Linked DNA regions of Homo sapiens: region 2 is linked to region 1. Evidence: fine-mapped expression QTL. Tissue or cell type: ovary. Region 1 holds a variant in brackets; the other region holds the start of a gene. All regions are shown on one strand. Distances are between the middles of the regions.

Region 1 (10,714 bases):
CCACCTTTAGACTTTTATAGTGGTTGTACTCTGCTTGTGACACCTCACATGTCAGGTGGCTTGATTGCTCCTTTTCTTCCAGTCACAATCTTATTAAGGCTATACTAACAACTCTAGCTTTCCAACCTACTCTCATCACTCCAGTTCTTCCTACCTGCCTCTATTTACCAATCACATTTAACACCTTCTTACACATTTTATAATTCACATTTTTATTATGTTTGTTATTTATATCTGTTTCCATACTCTATGAGGGCAGATATTTCATTGGCCCGGTACTAGTGATGTGTTGCTATAGTTCCCTGATGCCTGTCAAGTGTCTAGAACTGGACCTGTGCGGTTGTTACACAAAGTTAAAGAGATCTTTTTAAAACGTGAATCTGGCTGGGCGCGGTGGCTCTCACCTGTAATCCCGGCACTTTGGGAGGCCGAGGCGGGTGGAACATTTGAGGTCAGGAGTTCCAGACCAGTCTGGCCAACATGGCGAAATTCCGTCTCTACTAAAAATACGAAAAAAAAAAAAATGGCTGAGTGTGGTGGCGCATGCCTGTAATCCCAGCTACTGAGGAGCCTGAGGCAGGAGAATCGCTTGAACCCGGGAGGTGGAGGTTGCAGTGAGCTGAGATCGCTCCACTGTACTCCAGCCTGGGAGACAGAGTCAGACTCCGTCTCAAAAATAAATAATAAACAAATTTTAAAAATGTGAATCCGTCCATGTGACTTTTCTGCCTAAAATCCTTGCATAGTTTCCCATTGTTGTTAAGACCAATTCAAAAATCCTTAACTTGGCCTATAGTGATCATAGTTCTTAGTTTAGACTTAATGTAGATCAATTAACACCTGATAATTCCTTTTTTATTTTTATTTATTTATTTTAGACGGAGTCCTGCTCTGTCGCCCAGGCTAGAGTGCAGTGGCGCTATCTTGGCTCACTGCAAGCTCCGCCTCCCAGGTTCACGTCATTCTCCTGCCTCAGCCTCCCGAGTAGCTGGGACTACAGGCGCCCGCCACCAAGCCCAGCTAATTTTTGCATTTTTAGTAGAGATGGCGTTTCACCATGTTAGCCAGGCTGGCCTCTAACTCCTGACCTCAGGTGATCCTCCCACCTCGGCCTCCCAAAGTGCTGGGATTACAGGCGTGAGCCACCGCGCCCGGCCAATTTATTTTTAGTGCCCCATCCACTTACCATCAAGTATTCTGATTCATTTATAGTAATCTACTAGAGGGTTTTGCATCATGTATTGATAAATGTTCTTTCTTCCTCAGACTTCATCTCCTACTACTCGCCCTGTACCACTCTGCAGCTCAGTCTTAATCTCCAGACAGAATGACGTGTCTTAGTTCCTGTCCCTCAGGTGTTTCTGCCCGTGTTGTACTCTCCTAGGTGCACAAAATAAGGCCACTGTTGGCTCCTTCTCCGTGCTGTCCCCTCAGCCCCTTCCTTCTCCCGCCTGATTCTATCACATTCCCTTTACGTCATTACTTGTACCCCCAAAACAATGTTCCAGAATCTAGTATGCCCCAACTAGACAATCTACATACCGATTGCCTAGTTTCGCTTCGAATTTGTAGCAGGGAATTCAGGAAGAAGGTGTAGAAATGTGTCCAGGATTGGCCGGGCGCAGTGGCTCACGCCTGTAATCCCAGCACTTTGGGAGGCCAAGGGGGCGGATAACCTGAGGTCAGGAGTTCGAGAACAGCCTGGGCAACACGGTGAAACCCCGTCTGTACTAAAAGTACAAAATTAGCCGGGAGTGGTGACACATGCCTGTAATCCCAGCTACTCGGGAGCCTGAGGCAGGAGAATCGCTTGAACCTGGGAGGCAGTGAGCCGAGATCGCGCCATTGCACTCCAGCCTGAGCAACAAAAGTAAATCTCCGTCTCACCGGAAAAAAAAAAAGCAAAAGAAAAGAAATGTGTTCAGGATCATATTAGTGCTAAGTATAGTTAAAACAAACAAGCAAGCAAAAAGAGTATTGGGATCAACCCTCTAAAGCACAGTGTGACAATGGCCATCAAAATTGCCAATGTACATGTTCTTTGATGCAGCCTTTCCACATGTGCGAAGTATCATGGCATACATCAGATACGGTGTATGCTCATAGATACCAAAAATTTGCAATAGGAGGATGGAAGTCTAAGCTATGCCTATTAAACTATGGTATATACTCATATAGCTGAATACTATGCATATTTAAAAGAGAATGAACACTTTTCTGTTGTGATATGAAAGAATTGCAAAAATATATTCTGAGTTAAAAAAAAAGCAAAGGATTTAAAAAGTAGATAAAATGCCACTATTTGTGAAGAGAAAAAAGAAAACATTTGTTTAACTTTGGCTATGCGTTAAAAATCTCTGGAACGATAAAGAAGATATTAAAAACAATTGTAATATTTTTAGGAGACAATGGCTGGGTAGAAAGATCGGTTTAACCGTCCCTGAAGGGTGAGTAGAGCCACATTTCTAGAATTCTCCAATACCAAGGTCTTCAAAGTGGGCTTTGATTTGAGGTCACTCTGGAAATCTGAGGCAACAGGTAGGGAAACTTCCAAATGGAGGCTCCGGGCATGAGAAACCTGCCTGGGACGATCTCGACGGTGGGACCATCGAAAACAGACTCGTCGGGAATATCCTTCAGGTGCCAATTTCTGGGTTGTGTTAGTGAACGGCTCTTACAAAACAAGGACTCGCTAATATTTCACCGAGTCTGATTCATTGTCTGCACGTACTGATTACCAGACATTTAGAAAGCAACAAATGTTTCCATGGATTCCTGGACTATTCGCCGCAGTTTGAAATTTTTAAGCGTCCTCTTTCAACTCTAGGAACACGGCTTAAAAAATAAAATAATAAAAATAAATAAATAAAAAATGTTATTTCCTTGTTTTGTTTTTGTTTTAAGAGAAAGTTTCTCATTCTTTTTATTAAGAATCTAAAGCAACTAAGAAATTGTTTCTTCTTGTGAGACAAACAAGAATTATATTGCTGAATTTAATGCTTTCCCAAAAAAGGATGAGTGTCGAGATTAAGGGCGGGGGGTGGGGGGGGAAGAGCTGCACCCAGCGTCGGCTGGTTAGCTCAGTTGGTTAGAGCGTGGTGCTAATAACGCCAAGGTCGCGGGTTCGATCCCCGTACTGGCCACGTATTTTCCCCAGTAGTTTTTTATGGCAGTTCTGCAGAAACTCGTCGGTTTTCAGCCAGCGAAGGGCTACGGATAATTAACGATGCAAATCGTCGGTTTTCAGCCAGTGAAGAGCTGAGGGTAATAAACAATGCTCTCAGATGGTCCAAATTCGCTGCCATCATTTCTTAATCCATCTGAATTCTAACTCCATTCCCGAATCACCCAAATTTCTACATCTTCTCAGGTAAAGTTCTTATTCTTTTCCACTAGGTGTTAGGGCTGGGGACAGAAAGCTGTTCAGGGCAGAGGACCCAAGATTGGGAGCTCTGCCTAATGAAAGAAAAAAAAAATTAGAAGATTACTGGCTTTTTAAAAATTATTTAAATGAAGCTTACTTGATTTCAAATTGTCCTCCCAAATTGCTCCTGAAACCAACCTTCTTTCTCAAATTGGCAAGAGATACAAGATAGAGAGAACAAATTCTTAGGAGATTGTTATTATATGTCTCTGAAGACTTTTTTAGATTTAACTGACAGAAAAGATTGCCCTGAGAGGAAGCTATCGCTTTGAACATGGAACACAGACTTGGTGTGTTTTGTTTTGTTTTGGTTTGGTTTCTTGTTTTGTTTTTAGGAAAGGATGAGCTAGAAAGGAGTCGAATCTAGCCTCTTGTGATTAATAAACATGCACCTTGCATACTGCTTCCAACTTGAAAGGGCAATTCAATATTTCTTCTCTTTATCTTGTATCTCTTGTCAATTTGAGAAACAAGGTTGGTTTCAATAGAAATTTGGAAGGACAATTTGAAATCAAGTAAGCTTTATTTAAATAATTTTTAAGACGCCAATAATCTTCTAATTTCTCATTTTTTGTTTCCTTCGGCAGGACTCCCGATCTTGGGCCCTCTGCCCTGAACAGCTTTCTGTCCCCAGCCCTTACACCTGGAAGAAAAGAATAAGAACTTTACCTGAGGAGATGTAGAAATTTGGGTGATTCGGGGATGGAGTTAGGTTTCAGATAGATTAAGAAATGATGGCAGGGAATTTGTACCATCTGAGAGCACTGTTAATCACCCTCAGCTCTTCGCTGGCTAAAAACCGACGAGTTGCATTGTTAATTATCCTTAGCTCTTTGGTGGCTGAAAACCGACGAGTTTCTCTAGAACTACCGAGAAAAAGTACTGAGGAAAATATGTGGCCGATATGGGGATCGAACCCACGACCTTGGCGTTATTAGCACCACGCTCTAACCAACTGAACTAACCAGCCAACATTTTGGGTCTCTTCCCCCACACCACTCCCCCTCCCCATTAATCTAGACCCTCATCCTTTTTTGTGGTGAAAGCATTAAATTCAGCAATATAATTCCTGTTTGTCTCACAAGGAGAAACAATTTCTTAGTTACTTTAGACAATTCAATATCATATTACCTCTGATCATTCTGGGTAGTCTTTTCTGTCCTGTATAGGTTCCATACCTGCACATACTCATGAATATTAAGCTGAATACTTCAGAAGTTCTTTCTGGAGTTATCTCTTATTACAGCTCTCTTCTTTCTGGTATGCTATCATATTCACTCTAGCTGCCCCAGTCTCCCAGTCTATCAACTCCTCATCAACTCTGGGAGTCCACCAGGCTCTGCTTGGGTTCTGCCTTTCTGCATTGGGGCCTGGAAATTCAAGGCCTTAGTTAGGGGCTAATCCTACTGTTCACCTCCCCCTCTCTCCAATCATTCATTTTTTCCCCTGTGATTAGGGGTTACTATTCTTCCTTACCAAATACTGTATGTCTTGAAAAGTGTCATTTCATCTTTTTTGTTAGGTTTTGGTTCTTTACAGCAGGAATGTAAATCTGATCCCTGTTATTCCAACTTGACTGGAATCATCTCCCAGTTATTTGGAGGATGAAGAGCTATTTGGAGGAGCTATTTTCTGCTATGGGTTGCAGGCTTTTGGCACCAGAGAGGACCCTGTTATTATATAAGTGCAGCGGCCTGTCTTCCAGGGCTGTCCGGAGATCTTGGAGCCTCAGGGTTCTTGGGGCAAGCAGAT[G/A]TTGAGCTGTGTCTCCAGGCTCCGACTGGGACAACATGTCTGAAGAGTTCAGGCTACAAGCCCCAGGGTGGCTAAATTGCCTGCTCTTCTTTTGGGTTTGCCCTGGAATGCTCTGTTTGACTGATTGGAGTGGGCACAGAGGTAGAGAGAGAGCTTGGGGGAGGGCAGGTTCTGGGACTAGGGGTCTGGAGGGTCAAATGTAACTAAAATGGGCATTCGGATCTCTGCTGGACATGAACTGGTACGTGGCATCCACGCACTTTTTCTTTATTTGTGCCCTGTAGCCACCAGTAGATATCCTTCACCTGAGGAAATTGGAACACCTTCGCCTCGGGGCTCTATGGGCATCTTCTGGTAAGCGAATCTGGGTGGTCCTCCCAGCTTCTGTACCTAGGAGTCCCAAGGGTGATTGCCATCTGGCACAGCCTAGGGGATTGCGAATGGATGAATGGGACCCGCCCAGAACCTGAGTTCCCCACAGCAAGTCCGCTCAGTCCCTGTCTTAAGCCATCCCTGTCCTTCCCCACAACAGAGGGTACGGAGACCAGTGATCTGTGTGAACTCGCTTGTGGACTAGATGATTTTTGATAAGTTGTTCGCTGATTACCTTTAAATTACCTTTCTTGTAAAAGTTACATTCTACCTCTATCGGTGGTGGTGTTAGAAAGAGTTGCTTGTGTACATCTTTAAAAGCTGTTTTGTTTGAAATTCTCAGGAGATTGAGTATCCTAGTTGCTTTTATTATGGCATAAATATTTAGCCACTAATTCAATTATATCTTATGTTATTTATACTAAAATTATAAAATCCTAGTAACCCTACAATTGTATCGAGATAAGAAGGCTTTTGTTCACCATTTCAAACAGTTAACGTTCTAATTTTAAAGTGTATTTGGAGAAATTGAATTTAGCATTTTTATTATATTCTCTGAGAACTTCTTTAGTTTCACTGAGAATCATTTCATGTATCTGATTTTGTAAATCAGTTACCCTTTTAAAAAATAACAATTTTTCACTGTATTTGTCTTTTTCGTTATTTTCTCTATGAACTAGCTAATACGTCTTATTTATTGGAAGTAATATAAAGTTTCCTTTTAGGTATAAATCCATATTCCAAGCACACTTGCATTTTTTTCAGTGAAAATTTTAAAAAGAGAGAACAGAAATAAATCTATATAAGAAATATGTGGGCCGGGAGCGGTGGCTCACGCCCGTAATCCCAGCACGTTGAGAGGCCGAGGCGGGCGGATCACGAGGTCAGAGGTTGAGACCAGCCTGACCAACATGGTGAAACCCCGTCTCTACTAAAAATACAAAAATTAGCGGGCCGTGGTGGCGTGCGGCTGTAGTCCCAGCTACTCGGAAGGCTGAGGCAGGAGAATTGCTTGAACCCGGGAGGCGGAGGTTGCAGTGAGATAGGCCACTCCACTTTCCACTCCACCACTCCAGCCTGGGCGACAGAGCAAGACTCCGTCTCAAAAAAAAAAAAAAAAAAGAAAGAAAGAAAGAAAGAGAGAGAGAGAGAGAGAGAGAGAGAGAGAAAGAAAGAAAGAAAGAAAGAAAGAAAGAAAGAAAGAGAAAGAAAGAAAGAAAGAAAAATATGTGAGTGGATTTAGAGAAATTATATTCTGTAAATCAGACAGTGGTCAACTTACAACTATTTTCCCAGGTGGTTGAGACAAAAACACTTAGATTCCACCTCTACCAAACAACTTGATTAATGCAAAAGAAAAGGAGAATGCCAACACAGGAACTCTGCCCAGAAACTAAATCAGCAGAGACGTCAGGTTAACAAACTGTTGACAGTTACCCACCTCCAAAAAAGAACTTCTCATTGTTATAAAGGTGCTTAAAATCTAAACATGAACCCTGTGCCTAGCCTACAATTTTTTCAAGAAACTGCAAAGAACCCTACACTAGTTATTAATATCAAGTTTCCACCCAAAATGGCCCAAGAATTTGTTTGAAATACTTAACATGTGAACTGAAATAAACTTGGCAAACTACAATTATGATGATTTTTGTTTTTTTTTTTTTTTTTTTTTTTTTTTTGAGACAGAGTCTCGCTCTGCCGCCCAGGCTGGAGTGCAGTGGCACGATCTCGGCTCACTGCAATCTCCGCCTCCCGGGTTCACGCCATTCTCCTGCCTCAGCCTCCCGAGTAGCTGGGACTACGGGTGCCCACCACTAAGCCCGGCTAATTTTCTTCTATTTTTTAGTAGAGACAGGGTTTCACCGTGTTAGCCAGGATGGTCTCAATCTCCTGACCTTGTGATCCGCCCACCTCGGCCTCCCAAAGTGCTAGGATTACAGGCGTGAGCCACCGCGCCCGGCCATGATGAAGTTTTATACCAAGAATTCAATGAGCCTACGCCTAAAGTTTCACCATTGTAATTTCCCAGGATGTCTTTCCTATATGGTATAGGAAAGACATCGAAAGATATCCTGGGAAATTACAATGGTAGTACTTTATATGACATATATGATAGACATATATGTCTATCATATATAGACTATATATATGATAGTCTATATAGGCTATATATGATATATCTCATATATATCATATATATCTCATATATGATATATATCATATATATCTCATATATGATATATATCATATATATCATATATATCTCATACATGATATATATCATATATATCATATATATCTCATACATGATATATATCATATATATCATATATATCTCATATATATCATATATATCTCATATTTGGTATATATCATATATAGTCATACATAGGCTATAAATATGATAGACATATATATCTATATATATCTATATTGTAAGTATAACACTGCCCACAAACCTTTGGATCATGATTGTGTAAGGGAGATGCTACACTTAACTTTAAGGCAGAAGAAATTAGCAGCAACTAGGACTCATATGTGACAACTTGTATCATAAGCACAATACATGGAATATATTCATGAGAGGCATCTGAAGTAATATGCTACACTCTGCAACAATTACCTAAGTTTCCCACATGGTTTTAAGACTTTTGTGCCTCGATTCTGTTAAAAATATCAACTAGTATAAACACTAAATCATATCCATTGGTTTTTTGTTTTTTGTTTCTTTTTGAGATGGAGTTTCCCTCTTGTCACCCAGGCTGAAGTGCAATGGCACCATCTCTGCTCACTGCAAACACCGCCTCCTAGTTTCAAGCGTTTCTCCTGCATCAGCCTCCTGAGTAGCTGGGATTACAGTCACCCACCACCAGGCCCAGCTAATTTTTATGTTTTTATTAGAGCCTGGGTTTCACCATGTTGGCCAGGCTGGTCTTGAACTCCTGACCTGAGGTGATCTGCCCGCCTCTGCCTCCCAAGTGCTGGGATTACAGGCATGAGCCATGGCTCCCAACCCACATACCCATTGTTTTTGCATAAACAAGTTAGAGGGCTGTTCTCTGAAATTCAATAGATATAGTTAATTAATACTACTACTGTGTTTTTAAGTGCTTAGGTTTCATGAGTGGACTGCAGGGCTATTTCAACTGCAACTAAATCAAATATGCTTTCATAAAATTGTCATTTAAAAAGACTTCAGAAACTAAGCAGGGGGAGAGGACCATTGGAAAGAGAAAAGGGTACTATGAATTGGAGGTTGTGGGGAGCAGAGGAGAAAACTGTAGGAGGGGAAAGTATAGCCAGCAATATTCGTTTAGTGATGCTCCAGAAACACATGTCTCTACTGAGATTTATCTTGATTGGAGCTTCTTATAAAGAGGCTGATTGTCAAGATTCTTGATGGAAGGTTTTTTTTTGTTTTTGTTTTTGTTCTTGTTTTGCTTCTTGATGGAAGTTTCTTATAAAACAGACTGATCACCAAGATTCTTAATTCAGGTTTCAAGCAATGACAAAATTGAAAACTTCAGCAAGAGAGATTTGAGAAGTGGAAGACAGGCAGTGAATTTTCCAATATTATGCTTGCATTTCAAATTCCTGTTTCAGACTTTTCAAGTAAGCATGCACATTCCCAAAGCCATTGTATTTGGCTAAATATTCAAGGACCCCAGTTTCCCACAGTCTATCTCGCTGCGAGCGGAAACTGCAGTTGCACGGCCTCGACAAGGCGGACAATGCCAGTTCGCATCCAGCAGAGTATTCCTGACCTCTTCACCACAAGGGTTTCTAAGGTCGGGGCCGCAGAACAGGCCTTGAAAGCCCCAACAGTCTGGGTTTCTGCAGTTTGTTTGATAACAATAGTTTTCTGGCGGCATTGATGACAAATAGAACCCAGCGAACGGTTATATATCTTCTCTTGAGAGTTGCTGCAGATGTTCTCCAAACCTTCCTCTGTAATTTCTTCCGGTGGCCGAATTATATGTGGAAGGATCATGGGTGATCTGGCGGGACGATTTCTGAGCATCTCAACTTCGTTCATGTAGCCGTCCACAATCTTCCTCTTTCTCACCAACATGTACTTAGCCTCTGTCTTTTCTTCCTTCTCTTCCGTAGGTAGAGCGCCAAGGGACCCGAGGATCCTGACCTTGACCTCTAAGAGGCCGAGCTCTCTCCATTCAGAATGTCTCCTTGAAGAAACATCCAGGAATGTTTACCTTGGGGTCTCCTTGATTGTGAGTTGGGGCCTGGCGGGGAATGTCTTCCGGGGAACAAACCAGAGAAGCTTCTAATACTGACATGCGTTTTACAAGCATTGCTTTGTTTTGCTTTATATTTCAAGCCCTTTCCTCAAACAAAACAAAACAAAACAAAACAAATTCATGGCACTTTCATCTTCTGAATCGGAATTGGAACCAGTCATAGAATTCCTTGAGGGTTTGGGGTACTCTGCTTTTTTATTGGCTGCTCCCCTGGTGTTTCGCCCTGGAAACTTCATCGCCTGCCTGAGAAGTCCAGAGTGTCTGCACTGGCTGCTGGTCCAGCAGCCTTCCTGGACTGACTGAAGCCTCGTGTTTGCAAAATTATCAGAAGCAAAGCTGTCATAATTGTCATGAGAGGATGACGAGGTTTCCATGGGAATCAACTTCACATATCGAATTTAAGATCGTCTTTACTCTGAGATCCTTTTGCGGCACGCGGAGAGCAGCCTTGCTGGCAGCGGAACTCTTGGTCTGCGCTTGGAGCCGGGAGAGCACGGTAGCGGCGCGCGTAGCGGTCACACAACAGGAGGAGCGGGAGGCGTGTGAAACTTCTTTATGAGAGAGAGAAAGTAGGAACCACCTGAATGCCCAACAAATGAGGTCTAGTTAAATAAATTATGCTACGCTATAGAATCAAATAGCTAAGATAAGGCAGACCTTTAGGTATAAGTGTGTTTGAAATGTGTCCAAGACATATTAAGTTTAAGGAACACATAACATCATGTCTATTGGGCTTTATTTATGCAAAAATATAATTACAAATATGTAGATAATTTCACATAGATGTAGATAAGGGTTGAAAGGATATAATCCAAACTTAATAAAATTATCTCTGTATGGTAGTGGAGTGGGTTCAGAGAGGCTCCAAAGATTATTTCCTATAAGAAACCATTTCAGCCTGGGTGACAGA
Region 2 (10,714 bases), 26 kb after region 1:
CCAAAAGAGAACAGGACAGGATAGGCAAAATAGGTAATAATCGCAGTCTCTAACATTCGCACACTGTGTGCCAGGCTCCCAGCTGATTGCTCTACATGACCCGCCTCATTTCATCTTCCCATCGGCCCTGTGAAGTGTTATCCCCATTTTACAGATGAGAAAACGAAGTTTCAGAGAAGGTTCTCGCTTGCCCAAGATCACACAACGGAAGTGGGGCAGGAATCTTTGTCCGCTAACTCCTCCCAGCTGTGCCAGGGAGTGCTCACCTGCACCGCCCGACGAAGCCCGCAGTAGGGCGTGGAGTGGCTGCGGTTGCCCCCGCCCCCGAGGAGAAGTCCGCAGAGCTGTCGCACGCTTAGCGGCGCTCCCGTCTGCCCATCATACTGCACTACACCTCCCACCAGTGCCTGCAGCGCCCCCAACAGCTCCGCCTGGTTTTCAGCGCGGCCCAGGGGCCCGCAAGCGCTCAGCTCCGTCCGCAATGCTGCTTGAGCCGCCCCACCCGAGCGCAGCCGCCGCTCCACTTCAGCGAAGGCGACGGACACCGCCGCCCGGCACTGTGGGAAGCAAGAGGCGATGTCCGCCAAGACTTAGGCTGGGCCTCGGCTTTCCCTACCCAGGACCTGCGTCCTCCTTGGGTTCCCCACTTTCCCCTAGCGGGACTCAGAGGGTGCAGACCTAGCTCTTGGCCCAGGCCCCCGCCCCCAGGCCCCCGCCCCCAATCCCCTGCCTCGCAGCCCTCCTTCTCGGGTCTTCCCTGCAGGCCCCGTCCTCCATTGTGGCCCCGCCCCACCTTGAGCCTCACCTCCGGATAGGATTGTCCCTGCCCAAACCCCGCCCTCTCTGGGGAGCGCCTCTTTTCCTGGTGCCCCTCCTCTTCGTCAGCTCCCGCCTTCTTCCAAAACCTGCGTATTCCCCCGAGCTCCGACCTTCCTTAGACCCCGCCACGTTGCAGGTTTCGCCCTTCTCTGGCCTCCTCTTCCCTGGCATCCGAGGCCTCTTTTCCCTCCCAGTCCCCCTCGGACTAGGCCCCACCTCCTACCTCCAGGGACCCGCCGATCGCGGTGCTCATTAGGCTTCGGGATACCACCTGTGGGCGGACCGCAGAGGAAGGTATCCGGAAGTGTCAAGGGACTCCGCCCGCTGGGACCCCTCCCCGTCCCGCACCTGCTGCCCGCCATCCTTACGTCATTATACTCGGAGAAATCCAGCACGGCCCGCACCGGGGCGGAGGAGGCGACCGACGCGAAAATGAGATGGGGGAACTAAGGGAGGAGACGCCGTCAGCCTGCGGGCTGAGGGGTTGGAATCGCATATCTTTCTGCCTCTGTGTCACTTACTCGCTGTGTAATCTCGGGCTCTTGTGAGGACAGCTTGTGCAAAATTCTTTGGGCGCGGGAGGAAGGTAGGGGCGTGGTGGGAGGGTATTCCTATTATCTGAGACTGGGGCCCTGGAGTCCGAGTTCCCTCCCCCCAGCCCACCCGGAGGAGTCGCAGGACCTTCAGCCGGGCCCAGGCGGCCAAGGAGCCGGCATAGGAGCCTCCGAAGCAGATCCAGGGGCTGGAGGAGGAGATGTTAAAGAGGCGGGAAAGTGCCAGGCGGGCAGAGACCACATCAGCCAGCCTAGGGTCAAAGGGGGGACTCGGTCGGTCCTCATCGCTGGGAATCCCTGAAGATTTCCCCATTCTGGGGGAAACCCGGATCCAGAGACATGAATGGGTGAATCTGGCCAGAAACCAGGGCCGTTTTCTCATGACGTGTTTCCAAGTGTTCTCCAAGCCACATACACTTCCCAGAACATGTGTGCCTAGGCCAAGGGAGACCCTGTCCTCGTCCACTTTCTAGAAAGCCACCACCCTCTTTCCCTTCTCGTTTTAGGTAGGAGAGGAAAAATTTCCAAGTCAGTTTAGATGAAAACCTGACAAATGTAGGGAAGGGTTGAGGGCACTCAAGGAGGGCTACTAAGAGGAGAAGGAGGGGTCCTAACCTGATGAGTTGCAAGGTATTGGGAGAGAGAACAGACACAAAGAGAAATGGAGAGTGAAGTTTGGATATGTCTAACATCCTCTTTCTCCTCCCAAGGGCTTTCTTTCTTCCCTAACCTTTCTGAATGGCTTGCAGTTGGTACCATCCTGTTGCAGTTAGAAAACCGTTTCGCTTGTAGAAAAGATTAAGATGCAGAGAGACAGAGATGGAGACAAAGAGGCACAGATGTAGATACAGAGACGGAGAAAATGAGACAGGCAAACAGACTGTTACAGACACAGACAGAGATACCAATGAGGAAAGAAAAAGCTAAGTTCTGTAAGAATAAAGCAGATGAAAGAAACAAAAAGCAGGTGAAGTAAAGTTGGAAAAATGGTGGCGGTCGTTAATAGGAGTGAGATGCACTGAAGGAGGCTGGGGTGAGAGGCATAAAAACATCTAGGGGAAGGCCACGCCATGCAGAGGGATGAGTTCAAAGGCTCAAGGCAGGAATGTGCGTGTAAGTCTGGAGGACAGTGAGGACTTCAATGTAGCTGGAGCCCAGTGAAAGTGAGAGAGTATAGGTCAGAGTTAACTAGAGGCCAAAACCCACTGGACTCCATGGCGACTGTAAAAGCTTTGACTTTACTCTGAAGTCAAATACAGTCAAAATTGCTTTACTTCTGAAGCAATACAGAAGATGTCTGAGGGACTTAAGCCAGGGAGGATCATGTCCTGGTTTATGCTCTAACAGAATTACTCTGATTTCCACCTGGAAGTCAAGGGCAGAGCAGGAAAAATGGTGAGAATGCTGTGGCCGTAATCCAGGTAAGGAATGCTGGTGGTCTGCACAGTGATACAGTGGCTTACTTCAGACAGAGACGCAGAAATAGAAAGAACACAGGATAAGAGAAAGACAGATAGGGAGAGTCAGAGACCCAGAAATGGAAAGAGAAAAAACAAGACCCTATGAAACACAGAAGAAAACAGAGGGAACCAGAGACTCAGAGGTTGACTTCAGACAGTGGAGGAGAGAGACACAGATGCAGAGATGCCAAAGCACAGACATTCCTGTCCTTTGACCATAAACACTTTCCCTTCCTCCACTCACGCAAGGCGGCTGGACAAGAAGCGGAGCTGGGCCATTTCCAGGCCTCCAGCAGGTATACTCAGGCCATAAAATCTGTGTTCCAGGCTTATCACCAGGGCGCCCCAGGCTGGGGCCAAGGCTGCGGGATGGCCTGTGAAGAGTGTATGGGTGGGGGGTGGGGAGGTGAGATGCAAGTTGAGTTTAAGCCCTTTCACTCCTCAGGTCTCACAGCATTGCAATATGCAGCTCCCCTTCCTGGTCCCCACCAGCATCCCAACTCCTTTCCCCCAACATTGCCTCTTACCTCTCATCACTGAGCCAGGCCCAAGGCTGCCCTCACCCCCTAGATGCAGGAATATGGGTCCATCCTGGCCAACCCAATGTTGGTCATTCACCCAGTAACGCTGAGAGGTGGGATGGGGAAGAAGAAATGGCACTGTGAGAGTCCTGACTTATTCTCAATTCCTCATTTGTTCCAGTCTCTCTTCCTAATGGATCTTTCCTTATGTACTTAACAGTGTCTGAAATGAGCTTGTTTATTTACTTGCTCACTTTTCCCCTGTTCATCTCCTCATCTAGAATGCAAAATATACAAAAGCAAATTTTTGACCTGGTTTTTCACTCTTATATCCCCAGAACTGAGGGAGTGGCTCTCACATTGAAGGAACTTGCTATTTCTTGAAGTAATAATTGTAAAATAAGAAATAAATGCAGATGGATTTAGGAATAAGATCCAAGTGGGATGATATTTGGAGACTAAATACAGAGGAAGCACTGAAAAATGGCGAATTTGTTCCTTCTTTCGATAGATATCTTTGAGTGCCTGTTGTGAGCTAGGTCTGATTCCAAAGCTGGTTCAAATTTCTGCTACCTACTGAGACCTGGTGGTAGGTTTTGTGTCCAGTCTGGACAGGGACAAGGGGGTAGGGAGGAGCAGTGAATGTGAATGACAGAGAGAAAGAAATGGTGAAGGGCAAGATCTGAGGGACAAAACGAGTGGGACCCCGAGGAGAGGAGAGAGTAAGGCCAAATCTACAAAGGGCAGGAAAAGGGATACTGACAGCAAGCATAACATGAGATTCAAGCAGAGGGATGGGGAGAACTGAGGTGTGGAGAGAGAAAAAAGTGCAGACTGAGGAAGAGATGAGGGAGACTGAGGAGAGGGCAGGATGGTTAGTGGACTCCCCGTCTCCCGGCCTCACCTGTAGGAAGGATCGTCTGTCGGACACGTTGAAGGGGTCCAGCAGTTGCTCCAGCCACCCCACTTTTGGGAGGGCTGCAGCACCTGGCCCCAGGCTCAGGCCCAGGCCCTGGGCAGAGCTCTCCTGAAACTGCTGAATGTGCTCACCCAGGCGCCTAAGAAGGGAGGCTGTGGGACATGGAGGGAAGGAAGTCAGGCTGGCCCCCTTAGGATGCCCTGCTTGACCCTCAGCCTCCTCTTACCTGGAGCCAAGAGTCCCCAGAGGGAAACCAAGAGCAGAGGGCCCAGCCACTGGGCAAGCCAGACGGCCATGGTGTTCGGGACTCTGTTCTCCCCCAGGAGGACCTTTATCTTATCCTCAGCAGCCGGGCCTTAAATCCATCACCTTTCAGCAGAGGCTCAGGTTTCTTTCCTTTCCTGGCAGGTCAAGCGTCTGTAGGAACTGCTAAAGCGGGGCAGGGACGCCAGAGTCTGTACACAGAGGCTGCTGATGCAGCATCGGAACTCCCAGTTTCTTCTCTCTGGGCCTCTCAGTCTGTTCTTCCCTCAGCTCTCAGTAGCCCTCGCTGTCTCAGTCTCCTCCTCTCCGCTCTTCGGTCTACCTTCTCTTTATCTCAGATTCCTCCTTTGCATGCCTTATTGTCCTTCAACCTCTGTCTCTCCCCACCTCAGCACCTCCTCTGGAACCCCAGTTGCCCACTTATTCTCAGTCTTTTCTTTCTGCCCCTCAGCATATCTTCAGTACCCCTCAGTTGTTCCCACACTCAGTCTTTCCGTCTCTTTTTTCTCAGTCCCCCATCTCTTTTTCAGTCTTTCTCTCCATACTCATCTCTTTGTCCCCCAATCTCACCTTGTCTATTTTCCAGCCCCCTCACTTTCTGCTCTGCTTCACTGTCCCGAGCTTCTCTGACCCACAATCTCACACTGTCCATAGACTCCTTACAGTTCTTTGAACATACCAGGCTTGCTTCTGCCTTAGGGTTCTTATTCTTGTTGTTCCCACCCTATGGATTGTGATTTCCCTATATACCCACGTGGTTTGCTCCCTCACTTCAACTGGATCTTTATTCAAAGGTCATTCATTCAGAAAGGTCTTCCATGGTCAGCTTTTTAAAAATTGCCAAACCTATGGCCCTCTTCTATTCCTTTTCAAACTTTATTCCTAATTCTTTTTCATGGGACTTATCACTATGAGAAATATTGTACATTTAAAAAGTTATTCCCATAAATTTAAAAAATATATCCAGAATCTGATGACTTCTCACTACCTTCAGTGCTACCACTGCTGAGCCACCATCATCTCTGACTTGGGATATCATGGAAGGCTTTTAGCTGGTCACCCTGTTTCTGCCTCATGATTTATTCTACACTCAGCAGACAGAGAGACAGAATTAAATATTAGCCCAATCATTCACAATCATTCACTCCCTGGTTTAGAACACTTCCCTGATGCCCCATCTTACTCAAAGTAAATCTAAAGTTTTGAAAACAGTTTTTAAAACTCTGTATGACCTGGCCCCCTGTTGTATATACTGTCATGATTTCATCTCCTACCCCTCCTGGGTTCACTGCTCCAACTGCATTGGACTATTTCATATTTCACAAGACTCACTCCTTCCTTAGAATTTTTGCTCTCCTTAGGATGCTTTTCCTCCAAATATCTGCAAGTCTTATTTTATCACTTCCTATAGTTCCCCATTCATATATTTTATCTTACCAAATGGGTTTTACCTGACCACCCTTATAAATGGCACAACACCTGAGACCCTGTCCCCTGATCCTTCTGTTGTCACTCCCTGATAGTGATGACATTTTATTGCACTTCTCTCCCAAACCATTCCCCAGGAAGTAAGCTTATTCTGGGAAGCAATTTTGTCTGTTTTGTTCACTGGTGTACCCATAACACCCAAACTACTTCAAGGCACTTGAAAGGTTCTCAATGAATATGCAGTGAGCAAAAGGCTATATGGATAAATTGATTAATTAATGAATTAGTTTTCTGCTCAGGAAAGAATTCCCTAAGAATGTGACCTAAGAGTTGAGGCAAGGGAGTGAGTGGGGAGGGAGGAAGGCAGGGAAAAAAATACTTGAGGTAAGAATGAGGAGCCAGGGGGAGCATGAGGTTATCTGGAGTCAGAGGGTTTCTGGCCCAAGAAAGAGCAGGTGCAAAGACTCTGAGTCACAAACCTGCTTGGCACCACCAAGGAACATCAACAGTTAGTGGGCTGGAAAGTCAATGAAGGAATTTGAATTAGATGAGAAGAGAGAAGTAATCAGAGATTCAACCCTGCTGGCAAGCCATAGAAAGGGCTTTGGCTTTTATTTAAAGACTGATATATGGCCGGGCGCAGTTGCTCACGCTTGTAATCCCAGCACTTTGGGAGGCCGAGGCAGCTGGATCACAAGGTCATGAGTTCGAGACCAGCCTGGCCAACATGGTGAAACCCTGTCTCTAGTACAATTACAAAAATTAGCTGGGCATGGTGGGGAGGCGCCTGTAATCCCAGCTACTCAGGAGGCTGAGGCAGGAGGATCGCTTCAACCCGGGAGGTGGAGCTTGCAGTGAGCCGAGATCATGCCACTGCACTCTAGCCTGGGCAACAGAGCTAGACTCCATCTCAAAAAAAAAAAAAAAGGACTGATATGTTGCCGTAAGGGTCTTTTAAAACCTTAATACATAAGTGAATTTAAAGTTGGGTGTGGTGGTGCATGCCTGTATTCTCAGCTACTTGGGAGGCTGGGACGAGAGGGCTGGGAGTTCAAAGCTGCAGTACACTGTGATCGAGCCTGTGAATAGCCACTGCACTCCATATTGGGCAACACAGTAAGAACCTATATTTAAAAAAATGTATTAATAAATTTCTAAATTTATTTTTCGATAAATACGAATTTACTTAGTTGTTTTAATTGCTAGACTGGAAAGACAGGGATGTTTATCCCAACTCAATAATAAGACAAATAGCACAATTGGAAATGGAAAAAGGGTTTGAACAGGGATTTCTCCAAAGAAAATACACCAATGGCCAATAAGCACATGACAAGATGCTCAACATCATTAGTCGTTACTAAAATGCAATTATTATTTATTTATTTATTTATTTTTGGAGACAGAGTCTTGCTCTGTCACCCAGGCTGGAATGCAGTGGCATGATCTTGGCTCACTAAAACCTCTGCCTCCTGGGTTCAAGTGATTCTCCTGCCTCAGCCTCCCAAGCAGCTGGAATTACAGGTGCACGCCACCATGCCCGGCTATTTTGTATTTTTAGTAGAGATGGGGTTTCACCATGTTGGCCAGGCTGGTCTCGATCTCCTGACCTCAAGAGATCCACCCACCTCGGCCTCCCAAAGTGCTGCGATTACAGGCGTGAGCCACTGCACCCGGCCACTAAAATGCAAATTAAAACTATGAGATAATCCTTCATATTGACAAAAATGGCTCTGATAAAGATAGGCAATACAAGCATTGGAAATGTAAAAGGAAACAGCCACTGTAGAAGACTCTTGAACTCTTTTTTTAAAAAAAATCACTTTTGTTAGGTATAATTTACATACCATAATACTCACCTGTTTTTAAGTGTAAATTTTAATTTTTTAAGTAGATTTACAGATTTGTTTAACTATCAGCAGAATCCAGTTTTAGAACATTTTCAGTAACCCCCAAAAAGTCTCTTCATGCCTATTTGCAGTGAATTCCCATTTCTATTCCTAGCCATAGACAACCATTAATCTATTTTCTCTATATATTTATTTTCCTTTTTTGAACATTCCATATAAAAGGAATTCTACAATACATGCTTTTTTATGTCTGGCTTCTTCCACTTAGCATAATGTTTTTGAGGTTCATCCATGTTATAGCAGGTATCAGCATTTCATTTCCTTTTATGGCTGAATAATATTCTGTTTTATGGATATACTATGTTTGAGCTATCTATTAATTGGTTAATGTGCATTTGGTTTATTTCCTCTTTTTGCTATTATGGCTAATGCCACTATGAACATTTGTGTACTAGTCTTTTTGTTGAGATACATTTTCATTTCTCTTGGGTAGATACCTAGATGTGGAATTACCAGAGCATATATTAAAATCAAATTTAACTTTTAAAGAAATTGAACTGAACTGTTTTCCAAAGTGGCTATACCATTTGTTCATGTAATTTCTTAGACTCCAGAAACCTGAACCAAACAGGTAGAAAGTCTCCAATTTCGAACATGAACACGCTGGAAAAGTGAGAACTGAAATACGCCAGGAAAAATCATTGAATAGAGAGGACCAGAGGCTGCCAGATTATCCCTTCAGGCATGAAACTGAATCTTTTTATTGTGGGCAGTGGTGCCTGCTGCCTGAAGTTCAGCGGGTCAGACCCCTGGTGAGCATAGACATGATGTCCTTCAGGAGGGTCAGAAATTTCCGTGGATTACGCAGTCAGAAGCTGCAGGTTTGAAAACGTCTGCATCCTTTGTCTACTCCATGAGTAAGATTTAAAACCAAGTTTGTTTGTTTTAATCGAAAATAGATTATTCTTTTTATTGAGGCAGCGGTGGAAGGTGGGAAGGGACTTCTTTCCGGTCTAAGATTATCTACGAGAAGAATGTTGATGAAGTTAATGTTTTCGAAGCAAAGACAAGTCAGTGGAATGATTGGTAGCTTAGTTGGGCTTGAGTGTGGTTCTAGTGCCCAAAAAATTGTGGGTTTGCTTCCAGTACCCGTAACTTCTCTATGGTTTTTGTTCCTCTGAACTGTTCTTAGCAGAAGTCATCTCAATTTGAGCAGTAAAACAAGGGATAAATTATGATGCTCTAGGAAGCTTTAAATCCATCCCCTAGATTGTTTTGCCTTTTTAAACCATTCGCAGCCCAACAGATTCATGATCATCCGCAGGCAGGACACTAGGGCGCTCACTTATTTCAATCCCCCGCGCCCCATCCAGCGCGCTTTCATGAACTTCAATCAACCGTTATAAACAAATTGCGAAATCCACCTGATAACTAAGGGCATCTTTTGACTTGTGTGAGCGAGTTTCCACGTGATCTTGATTTCCTCTCAGCCCTTCACTCTGTCTCAACAGTCTGGACTTCCTGGCGCTACACAGAGAAAGGAGACCCATCTGTTTAAAGTGACACTGTCCAAAAGATATTTCCCATATCTTCCCTCCATCCTTGCCTTTTCCTTTGGGAGTTTAACTTTTTTCAGAGATCTCCTGCCCTCTTCTTGGGGCCACTTTCTTAGTCACTCCCTTTTGCTATGAAGCTGTTGCCTTCTTCTCCAGAACCTCAGGCACTAGTGGAAGGAATTTGAATTCAAGAAACTCCTGGTTATCTCGCTGTTTCTGGTCTGCATCTTTCTAGTGCCTACAAGTGACCTGAAAAGGAATCAAGACTCCCCAAAATGAACCTTGGAACTCTCATGACGTCTCTGCTAGGTTAGCTTCTGTCTGGGAGAGACTGTGAGGTTGAGACAGGTCCAGGTGTGCAGGTGGTAATGACGGGTAGCGTACTGGGGCCGTGGAGTGAATGCCCAGTGAGGATAGAATAGGTCTTTAAATGCCTTTCTGTTCTGAGTCAGTCATATGTTTGTTTCAGGTCTATGCTGTATATGTGAAAATTTCATTATTGATTAATCTGGTTTTTTAAAAATATAGTTGACTCGCCAGGCGTGGTGGCTCGTGCCTTTAATCCCAGCACTTTGGGAGGCCGAGGTGGGTAGATCACGAGGTCAAGAGATCGAGACCATCTTGGCCAACATGGTGAAACCCCGTCTCTACTAAAAATACAAAAAATAGCTGGGCGTGGTGGTGTGCGCCTGTAGTCCCAGCTACTCGGGAGGCTGAGGCAGGAGAATTACTTGAACCCGGGAGGCGGAGATTGCAGTGAGCCGAGATCATGCAACTGCACTCCAGTCTGGCGATAGAGTGAGACTACATCTCAAAAAAAAAATTATATATATATAGTCCCAAATCAACTGACATGCATTACTGTCCTTTTTCTTTTAAAATGTTTAGCTAGAAGTGAGCTCCATTTTCTTGCTTCTAACTGAAACTTATTTTCATGGCAGGGCAGACGCTCACAAAGGTGCTCAGAAGTAAGACTTTTGTTTTTTTCTCACAAATTCGAAATGATTTGGGATATCATGAAAAGCCTTTTCACATAACACTGTATATGTGCCGGGTCCGACCCGCAGACCCTGACTGAACATCGGATGAAAAAATGCACTCAGACACAGATATCCAATGAAAGAGCAGGCTAGGGGACCGGGCGTTCACAGAAGGAGTTGTTGCATCCTGCTTGCACACACAGAGGAGGGTGTTCTAAAGATTACGCAGCCCGGCCCTGACAAGCTGGCCCTGCGGGCATTTATTCAGTACAGATTTAATGGCAAAGGCTTTGAGTCAACACACTTGTGGCTAATTAATATGGTCACCCTCCCTGGAGAGAGCAGTCCTGCGGGTGATTAAAGGCC

What was found. PIP is the estimated chance that this variant, and not a neighbour inherited with it, causes the effect.
Region 2: PRSS16 starts here. The variant in region 1 is fine-mapped to the expression of PRSS16 in ovary (GTEx, PIP above 0.99).

Annotation. Positions count from the first base shown.
Region 1 is chr6:27,267,640-27,278,353 of GRCh38, reverse strand. It overlaps TRI-AAT9-1 (tRNA-Ile (anticodon AAT) 9-1), which reads right to left and starts at 4,394; the gene lies at 4,321-4,394. It overlaps TRI-AAT3-1 (tRNA-Ile (anticodon AAT) 3-1), which reads left to right and starts at 3,070; the gene lies at 3,070-3,143. It also overlaps the pseudogene CDCA7P1. RefSeq lists a silencer at 1,702-1,872. The variant G/A (reference allele first, on the strand shown) is at 5,177.
Region 2 is chr6:27,241,593-27,252,306 of GRCh38, reverse strand. It overlaps PRSS16 (serine protease 16), which reads right to left and starts at 4,606. Exons shown (of 12, transcript NM_005865.4): 1 at 4,500-4,606; 2 at 4,259-4,425; 3 at 3,361-3,460; 4 at 3,078-3,207; 5 at 1,501-1,624; 6 at 1,188-1,265; 7 at 1,043-1,090; 8 at 267-557. The coding sequence starts at 4,569. RefSeq lists enhancers at 26-225, 246-415, 5-525, 796-1,165, 1,306-1,375 and 1 more.